Regions from separate parts of the Homo sapiens genome. Here region 2 is linked to region 1. Evidence: fine-mapped expression QTL. A gene starts in region 1. The other region holds a variant in brackets. All regions are shown on one strand. Distances are between the middles of the regions.

The links. PIP is the estimated chance that this variant, and not a neighbour inherited with it, causes the effect.
Region 2: its variant is the best candidate, but not a certain one, in a credible set for the expression of MTRF1 in cerebellar hemisphere (GTEx, PIP 0.86).

What each region holds. Positions count from the first base shown.
Region 1 is chr13:41,261,323-41,265,720 of GRCh38, reverse strand. It overlaps MTRF1 (mitochondrial translation release factor 1), which reads left to right and starts at 2,145. Exons shown (of 10, transcript NM_004294.4): 1 at 2,145-2,236. RefSeq lists a silencer at 1,850-1,939 and an enhancer at 2,227-2,727.
Region 2 is chr13:41,299,794-41,304,191 of GRCh38, reverse strand. It overlaps LOC105370173 (a long non-coding RNA gene), which reads right to left. Exons shown (of 3, transcript XR_001749846.2): 3 at 141-679. It also overlaps a transcript of MTRF1 not described here. Among named protein-coding and RNA genes, the nearest start is that of NAA16, 9.3 kb to the left of the region's middle. The variant T/ATCT (reference allele first, on the strand shown) is at 1,786.

The DNA.
Region 1 (4,398 bases):
GTAGGTGGCCACCATCTCACAGTGTACTCACGTAACCTCTTCTTTGTTTGGGCAGGGACAGTGAGCAAGATCTCTGGTGCCTTTTTAGAAAGGCACTAATCCTATTATGTCAGGGCTCTACTCTTACGACCTCATCTGACCTTAATCACCTTAAAGGCCCTATCTCCAATACAGACACATGTATTGGAGGGGTTAGGGCTTCAATATATGAATTTTAAAAATAAATATTAGTAATATGCACATGATTATGAATATAAACAATTCAGTCCATAGCAGTAAGACTACTTTTTTTTTTTTTTGAGACGGAGTTTCACTCTTGTTGCCCAGGCTGGAGTGCAATGGTGCAATCTTGGCTCACTGCCACCTCTGTCTCCTGGGTTCAAGCGATTCTCCTGCCTCAGCCTCCGAGTAGCTAGGATTACAAGCATGAGCCACCACGCCCAGCTAATTTTGTATTTTTAGTAGAGATGGGGTTTCTCCATGTTGGTCAGGCTGGTTTCGAACTCCTGACCTCAGGTGATCCACCTGGCTCGGCCTCCCAAAGTGCTAGGATTACAGGCGTGAACCACCACGCCCGACTAAGACTAATTTTTTAAGGAGAATAAAGCTTTATATATAATACTCAAGTTATATAGCTGAAAGCACAAATCAGAATAAATAATTAAAGAACTTTTTGGATAACTTAGGAGAATGACTTTATGTAGACCCTTTGAAACTTTTCCCCTACTGGAACATAAGCTCCATGTGGGCAAAGGTTTTTGTCTTTTCTGTTCATTGCTAAATCCTCATGACTAGAATAGTGAATAGCACATAACTGGTGTTCACTATTTATTGAATACATGATTGAAGGTTTTTTCTTTTTTGGAGCAGGGTGGCCCTATATCAGAGCTTAGGAGCCACAGATCATTAAAGCCATTGCCTTAATTGAGTCTTGGCTCTATCACTTACTGTTTTTTACCTTGGAGTAGTTACTTTAGCTCTGTGTGCCTTAATTTTCTCCTCTGCAAAATAAGTATTTTAAGGTTGTAAAAATTAAATGAATTAATAGGGTAAAACCATTTAGAACAGTATTTAGTACATAGTACATAGAAGTAGGTACCTTGAAGTTGGCTATAAACGTTAGATATTATTTTGCATATATAGCTAATTCTCCTATCTATGTATGTGATTATAATCTAAGAAAATACTCTGTAAAGTCAGTAATATGGTACATTTTTTGCCTTTTCTTTCAGGAAGAAAAATTGAGGCATGGAGATAGAAAGACTGTAAATTGCGATAGCCAAGGGCTGGATCCCACTGGATTAGTCAAAGTAGGACAATATGCTTGCATTTTCCTGCAATTGTTTATTAACTGGAGTTTTCATTCTTCACTTAATCAGTGGTTCATAAGCTATGAATCTAGGTTGAGCCCCTACATTCCCATGTGCAAAGAACATTATAAAATCACTAACATGTGGAAATACACGGTCTCCTAACTTTTGGGGCTGTTACTACTTTTAAAATATAAATTTATTTGTATTATCCTTTAGTCATTAGGTATTTTCTGAAGCAATGGAAGCTGAAAGTATAGAAATTACACGCAGAATCTTCTACATTTGTGGATGATGTAAAAGGAGTCTTTATTTTTTTTAAATATTGGAAAACAGTGCTTTACGGGCTTCTAATACATAAGGAAATTATTGTAATTTCACATGCAATGTGTTCTAAATCTTGATCTCTTAATCAGAATCGTAAAGAATCTCTCTTCTAGGTTTGCAGTTAACGGTGAAAACCAAAAACTCCACATTTGGCTGGATAGTGAGTGGAGGGGGTTGGAGGCTGCCGCAAGGTAAACTACAACTCCCAGGATTCTTTGGTGGGCGCTCTGGGAGTTGTAGTTTAGTCCCACCTTGGCCCCTCCCTCCCTCCCTCCCTCCCACCATCTCCATCCCCGCTCTGGGCTCACGCTCTGGATAAGGACGGCGCGGGGGCGGTTGTCTGATGACAATTTCATTCTCGTTTTGTCATTTTTCTCATTTAGCTCATTTTTGTCATTTTAGTCCATTGTTAGGCATGCTCGAGGACAACTCCTCCGGAGAGCGGTAGTGGCGGAGGAGGGGCCGGGAGCGTGCGTTAACCCGGAAGAAGTGAACCAGGAAGTGAACGTGATCTCGGGTTTGTCGGGCTGAAATGTGGCGGGTCTCGGAAGGTTCCGACCTCAGTAAAGAGAGCTAACGTGTATTCTTCTTTTTCTTAGGTACTCACAGTTCTTTCCTGATCTTCCCCGCCGCCTCCTGTATTGCCTCTTTATGGAATCACTCCATATACTGAGTTACACAGCATGGTTTGCCCGTGCTGCTGCCCCGCGGGCTGTCGCTTCTGACCTGCCTACACTCAGAACTTTCCCCAAAGCATCAGAGTAATACTGTTACTGTGATGGGTAATGGAGAAGTCGTGCTGTTCTCAGGTGTAGTTAACCTTGGAGAGTAAACATCTTGTTTTGTTTTGTTTTCCTTAATGTTGAGATTCATGACCTTGAAAATTATGCATTCTACTACTGTTCCTAAAATGGAAATTTTAGCAATAAGTATTCGTACAAACATATATTTGTCATCCTTTTATTCTGTCTGTTAGCAAATGGATACACTTTCTCTAACGTGCTTGAAATACGGGGGTGGTGGAGTGTAACGTTTGTGACAGCTGGCCATTGGTGCTTTCTTCAACAGTTCTTTTAATAATGTGATGCAGTATCCTAAAATCTATCAGTAGAACTCTGGAAACTGAATATTTTAAAGACCATTCTGACTATTTTATTTCCTAGGTGATAATGCTAAGTTAACAGACTTATAGTGAACAAATGAGCTAATATATCAATGCACCTCCTAGCATAGTAGGATCACTGGAGACAGTAAAGTTTGATTTTGATAAATGTTGATCCTTCTTTTTTTGAGTTGAGTCTCACTGTGTTGCCCAGGCTGGCCTTGAACTCCTTGGCTCAAGTGATCCTCCTGCCTCAGTCTCCTGGGTAGCTGGGACAATAGGTGCATGCTACTGTGCGTGGCTTGACCCTTATTTCAACTTTGAACCTTAGAGTTTTCTTAGAACACTTTATATTCTCCCTTTCTTACTCAGTAAGACCATTGTGTACTTTTGTTAGCTCTTGATTATCTCTGTTGGAGGGGAGGAGAACAGAAAATTATTGTACACAGCCAATTTCACCTAACCTGTAATTTTTTAAACTAATCTTTTTTTATGATTAGGAAAGTATTCCATGCTACATGTGCAAGAAACTTGGAAAACACTGAAAAGTAGAAAAAATAGCAAGCAAAAGGTATTCATAATCTCACAACTAGAGATCATTTTATTAACATTTTGGTATGTTTCTTTTTTTTTTTTTTTTTTTGAGACAGCGTGTTGCTTTGTCGCCCACGCTGGTTGCAGTGGTGCGATCTCAGTTCACTGCAACCTTCGCCTCCCAGGTTCAAGCGATTATCCTGCCTCAGCTTCCCGAGCAGCTAGGACTACAGGTGTGTGCCATCACGCTCAGCTAATTTTTTTGGTATTTTTAGTAGAGATGGGGTTTTCCCATGTTGGCCAGGCTGGTCTCGAACTCCTGACCTCAGATGATCTGCCCGCCTCGGCCTCCCAAAGTGGTAGGATTACAGGCGTGAGCCACTGTGCTCGGCACATTTTGGTATGTTTCTTATTTAACTTTCTTTTTAAAAAATACTCTATGTGCTTTTTTTTTTTTACATGTATACCTTATATTGTAGAATATTTTTTAAATGTAATTGAGATTCTATTTTGTTCCTTGCCTTTCTTGCTTAATATAATTGTCACCATTTAATATAACTGTAGAGCTTTTCACCAGCCCTACTTTCTTGGTCTATTAATACTTGAACTTTTCTTCCTTTAGGATCTCAGCTAAACGGGAAGCATTTTTGAAAAGTGATTGCACAATTGAGAGTGAAAATTACTGAGTCCTGAACAGGCAACTTACATTCTAATACCAGCTCTGTCTCCATCCAGCCGACTGAATAGTCGTGATTAAGTTACTTGACTTCCTTGGATATCTAGATCCTTAAAGTTAAAGAATTATACAAGATAATAATATTTTCTTCAAACTTTAGAAAATGACTTTATGAACCGCCTTAAGTTTGTATGTTTTCATAGCTTTCAAGAGCTTGTTTACACACTCAATTCTAGATTCTAGATACTTTCTAGAAAATAACTGACTTAACTCATTCAATTGATATATTTGTTAGTTGTACTCCTACTCATATGCTTCAGTTAATTATATATGTTGAACAGGTAGGAAGCAGTGCTGTTTTTATTTATTTTAATATGTTATTCATACATTTGAAGAATTATGTTCTTTCTGTAGGCAGCTGAATTTTTTTTTTTTTTGAGACGAAGTCT
Region 2 (4,398 bases), 38 kb before region 1:
TGGCATTTCACACAGTAGACCACCCTCTCCTTCATGAATTTCTCTTTCTTTTCTTATGTTACCAGAAAGAGCTCCTGATCCAGACCCCAAGAGAGGGTTCTTGGATCTCACCGAAGAAAGAATTTGGGGCAAGTCCACAGTGCAAAGCAAAAGCAAATTTATTAAGGAAGTAAAGTGGTGAAGGAATAGCTACTCTATAGACAGAGTAGGGCGTTCCTGAAAGTAAGAGGAGGAACGCGCCTACCCCTAGGTACAATGCTTATTTATATATAGGATAACAAAAAAATGGGGAGATTTGCTCTACTACAAAGGTTTGTGATTTAAACAATTAGTTTTCTTAATTACTATATTTTGCAAGGATCGATATTTATCTTTAAAGCAAAATTAGGAGTGCTTTTGTTTTTAAGACATCAGGATATCAGGACATTCCTGAGTCTGGGTCTGTTAGTAAACGTTATTAATCTGTTCCGTTAACCTAGAGGCTAGGAATACTTACCCTCCTGGGAATGCAGCCCAGCAAGTCCCAGCCTCAGTTTTCTTAGCCCTCACTCAAGATGGAGTAGCTCTGGTTCAAATGGCTCTGACACTTGCATCGCCAAGACCCTGCAGAATTCTGGGTTTTCTCCTGTACCTCTTCTTGGTCATCCTTTGGGTCCTCAATCAAGTCTTCATTCTTCTCCTAAATGTAGATTATCTAGATAATTCTGTTTTCTTTTTAAACAACAACAATAAAACATGTTCATTGAACACCTGCTATGTGCAAGACCAGCACGTACAGAATACACTAGCAATACAAAATTAATAAATTCTCTTGCTCCCATAGCATCATTATTAACACCAAGTAGATTATTTCAAATCTCTCTCCAGTTTCAAGTCCCCTTTGGATCTCCTGGCCTTCATTCTCATTGTTTAATATCTCCATCTGGATGTCTTATAAGCATTTCCTACTTTAACAGTTGAAATAAAATGTATTATCTTCCATCAAAGTAGTCCAAAAAAATAGAGAAAACTACTTATCTGTTTTTGTTATTGACACCACTCTTGCAGTTAGCATCAAATATATATACATATAAAATAAAAATAAATCAAAAATAAATAAATAAATAAATAAGAAAGGCTCTTTCTGGAATTTCTTATCTGGAATGTATGTATTCCAGCCTCTTGAGTAGCTAGAATGTATGTATTCCAGCCTCTTGAGTAGCTGGAATTACAGGTTCCACCTACTCAAGGTGCTCTCTTGAATAGCTGGAATTACAGTTTCCGACTACTCAGGTGCCACCACACCCAGCTTGCCTCAAAATTTTATAATCAACTTTGACTGCTCTTTCTTATTCTCAAGTTGCCAAGTGCTTTAGATTCTAGATCTAGGCCAGGCGCAGTGGCTCACGCCTGTAATCCCAAAACTTTGGAGGCCAAAGCAGGAGGAACACTTGAGCCCAGGAGTTTGAGACCAGCATGGGCAACATAAGGAGGCCCCATCTCTACAAAAAGTAGTTTAGCCAGGCGTGGTGGTGCACACCTGTGGTCTCAGCTACTTGGGAGGCTGAAGTGGGAGGATCACTTGAGCCCAGGAGGTCAAGGTTGCAGTGAGCCATGATTGTGTCACTGCACTCCAGCCTGGGTGACAAAGCAAGACCCCATCTCAAAAAAAAAAATTTAAAAAAAAATCCAGATCTAGTGTGTTTCTCCCTTTTCTTCCCTGTATTGGGGCACAGAAATGATTCCCCAAATATAGCCACGCTGAGTGCTTTTGAAAATCCTCAAAAATAAGCCTGAGAACAAAGG[T/ATCT]CTCTCTCTCTCTGCCACTTCTCCCACCTTCCTGTCTCTCTGATCCTGTTTCCAGAAGCACCCTAAGAAAGATTCTTGGCCAGGCACGGTGGCTCGCACCTGTAATCCCAGCACTTTGGAAGGCCGAGGCGGGTGGCTCACCTGAGATCAGGAGTTCGAGACCAGCCTGGCTAATATGGTGAAACCCTGTCTCTACTAAAAATACCAAAATTAGCCAGACATGGTGGTGGTGGGTACCTGTAATCCCAGCTACTCGGGAGTCTGAGGCAGGAGAATCGCTTGAACCCAGGAGAGGGAGATTGCAATGAGCCAAGATCGTGCCACTGCACTCCAGCCTAGGCAACAGAGGGAGACTCCATCTCAAAAATAAATAAATAAATAAATAAGAAAGACTCCTTCTGGAATTTCTTATCTGAAGAAGAAAGTTTAAATACAATTGTCTTAAGACTCCCTCCCTAGGAATCTCATCAAATAGCCAGGAAAGATCAACCACCAGAGAAGAGAAGAGACTGGGAGTCATCCCCACACCCAGACAGACTTTTCATCTGTTCATCTGAGAGCAGCACTGAGAGATTTTATCTACATAAAATCTTTATCTACATAATAAGACAGACTTTGTTTCTGTGCAGCTCTGGTCCTTGCCTTTCTTTTTTTTTTTTGAGACGGAGTCTCACTCTGTTGCCCAGGCTGGAGTGCAGTGGTGAGATCTGGGCTCACTGCAACCTCCACCTCCTGGGTTCAAGTGATTCTCTTGCCTCAGCCTCCCAAGTAGCTGGGATTATAGATGCCCACCACCACATCCGGCTAATTCTTGCATTTTTAGTAGAGTCAGGGTTTTACCCTGTTGGCCAGGTGGATCTCAAACTCCTGACTTCAGGTGATCCGTCCACCTCAGCCTCCCGAAGTGCTGACATTACAGGTATGAGCCACCGCACCCAACCTGTCCTTTGCCTTTCTATATCATCTGCCTCCCACCTCCCAAGTCAATACATCTCTCCCCTCTGAAAACAGGTACATAAGCTTCTGTATAATAGTGCGTTGTTGGGTCACCATTCTGCGATTCCCCCAGGCTAGCCACGTGAAAATAAAATTGTGTATGCCTTTTCTCCTATTAATCTGCCTTTTGTCAGTTTTCAGAGAACCTTCAAAGGGTGAAGGGAAAAGTTTCCTATCCCCTGGTGAATGCAGAGTTAATTCCACTACCTGCGCTTAGGAGGGATACATCTTTGCCTTCTTAGGGAACTTTACTCCTCTCTCCTATCTCTCCTTTCTCTTCTCAATTACTGTAATCATTTCATCATAACTGTTATTGAACACTTACTCTGTACTAGACACTATATGCAATTTGCTATTTCTTATTTAATCTTTATGAAAACCCTATGAGAAAAATACTATTATCCATGAGAAAAAGAGAAATAGCTCAGAGCAATCTGATCTACGTGAGGTATGCAAAATATATCAGGCCCAGAGAGACATGAATATGGAGCTTCAGTCATGCCCCCTGCACCCAGGCAATTGTTTAAAGGCATTTTGTTCTTGACTAGCTGCCTCGCCCATTATCTTCATGTTCCTGAAATTTGTGATACAAAGAACAATGTGTAGCCAATCAATAACTTATGTCATTTTAATGTAAAATCTTGGTAAACAATTTAGGAATTGCCTCTTTTTTATTTTTTTGCTTTAAAAACCACTGGTAAGGCCAGGTGCAGTGGCTCATGCCTACAATCCCAACACTCAGGGAAGCTGAGGCAGGAGGATTGCTTGAGGCCAGGAGTTCAGGCCCAGCAAGACCCTGTCTCTAATTTTTTTTTTTTTTTTTTTGAGACGGAGTCTTGCTGTGTCGCCCAGGCTGGAGTGCAGTGGCCGGATCTCAGCTCACTGCAAGCTCCGCCTCCTGGGTTTAGGCCATTCTCCTGCCTCAGCCTCCCGAGTAGCTGGGACTACAGGCGCCCACCACCATGCCTGGCTAATTTTTTGTATTTTTAGTAGAGACGGGGTTTCACCATGTTGGCCAGGATGGTCTCGATTTCCTGACCTTGTGATCCGCCCGCCTCGGCCTCCCAAAGTGCTGGGATTACTAGCGTGAGCCACGGCTCCCAGCCTCTAATTATTTTTTAGAAATGTTTAAACCACTTGTAATTACAGCAAACAGAAGTGTGTATTCAGGGAAACTCAAATCTATGCTTTTGGGTGGCCATCTTCAATCTTTGAGCTCAAATAAACTCTATGCTTAATCATATTTTCTGCATCTCATTCTTAAGGTTGACATTTTGGTGACCCAAACGGGACCTAAAGCAGACCTCCAGTGATCACTGTCACTTCACTGACAACTAGAGAACTGGTGCCAGTAGTTTATCCAACCTTGCTGGAGTCAACAACGATCTCTGGAAAGGCTCCTCTCAAGTCTGAATCTTTCTGGCTTTCTTGAGGATTGAGACATTATTTGAGCTACACACATTCCTAAATTGAAAGGGCTGAAATTGAAACTCTACTGTTCGGTAGGAGTTTCATTTGTTATTCTTTAGTGATTTTTCTGACCACAGATTTGTAAGTTTCACTTTTTCTCTGATATTAAGGTCTTATTTGAATTATGCCTTAGAGCTTTTCAAACAT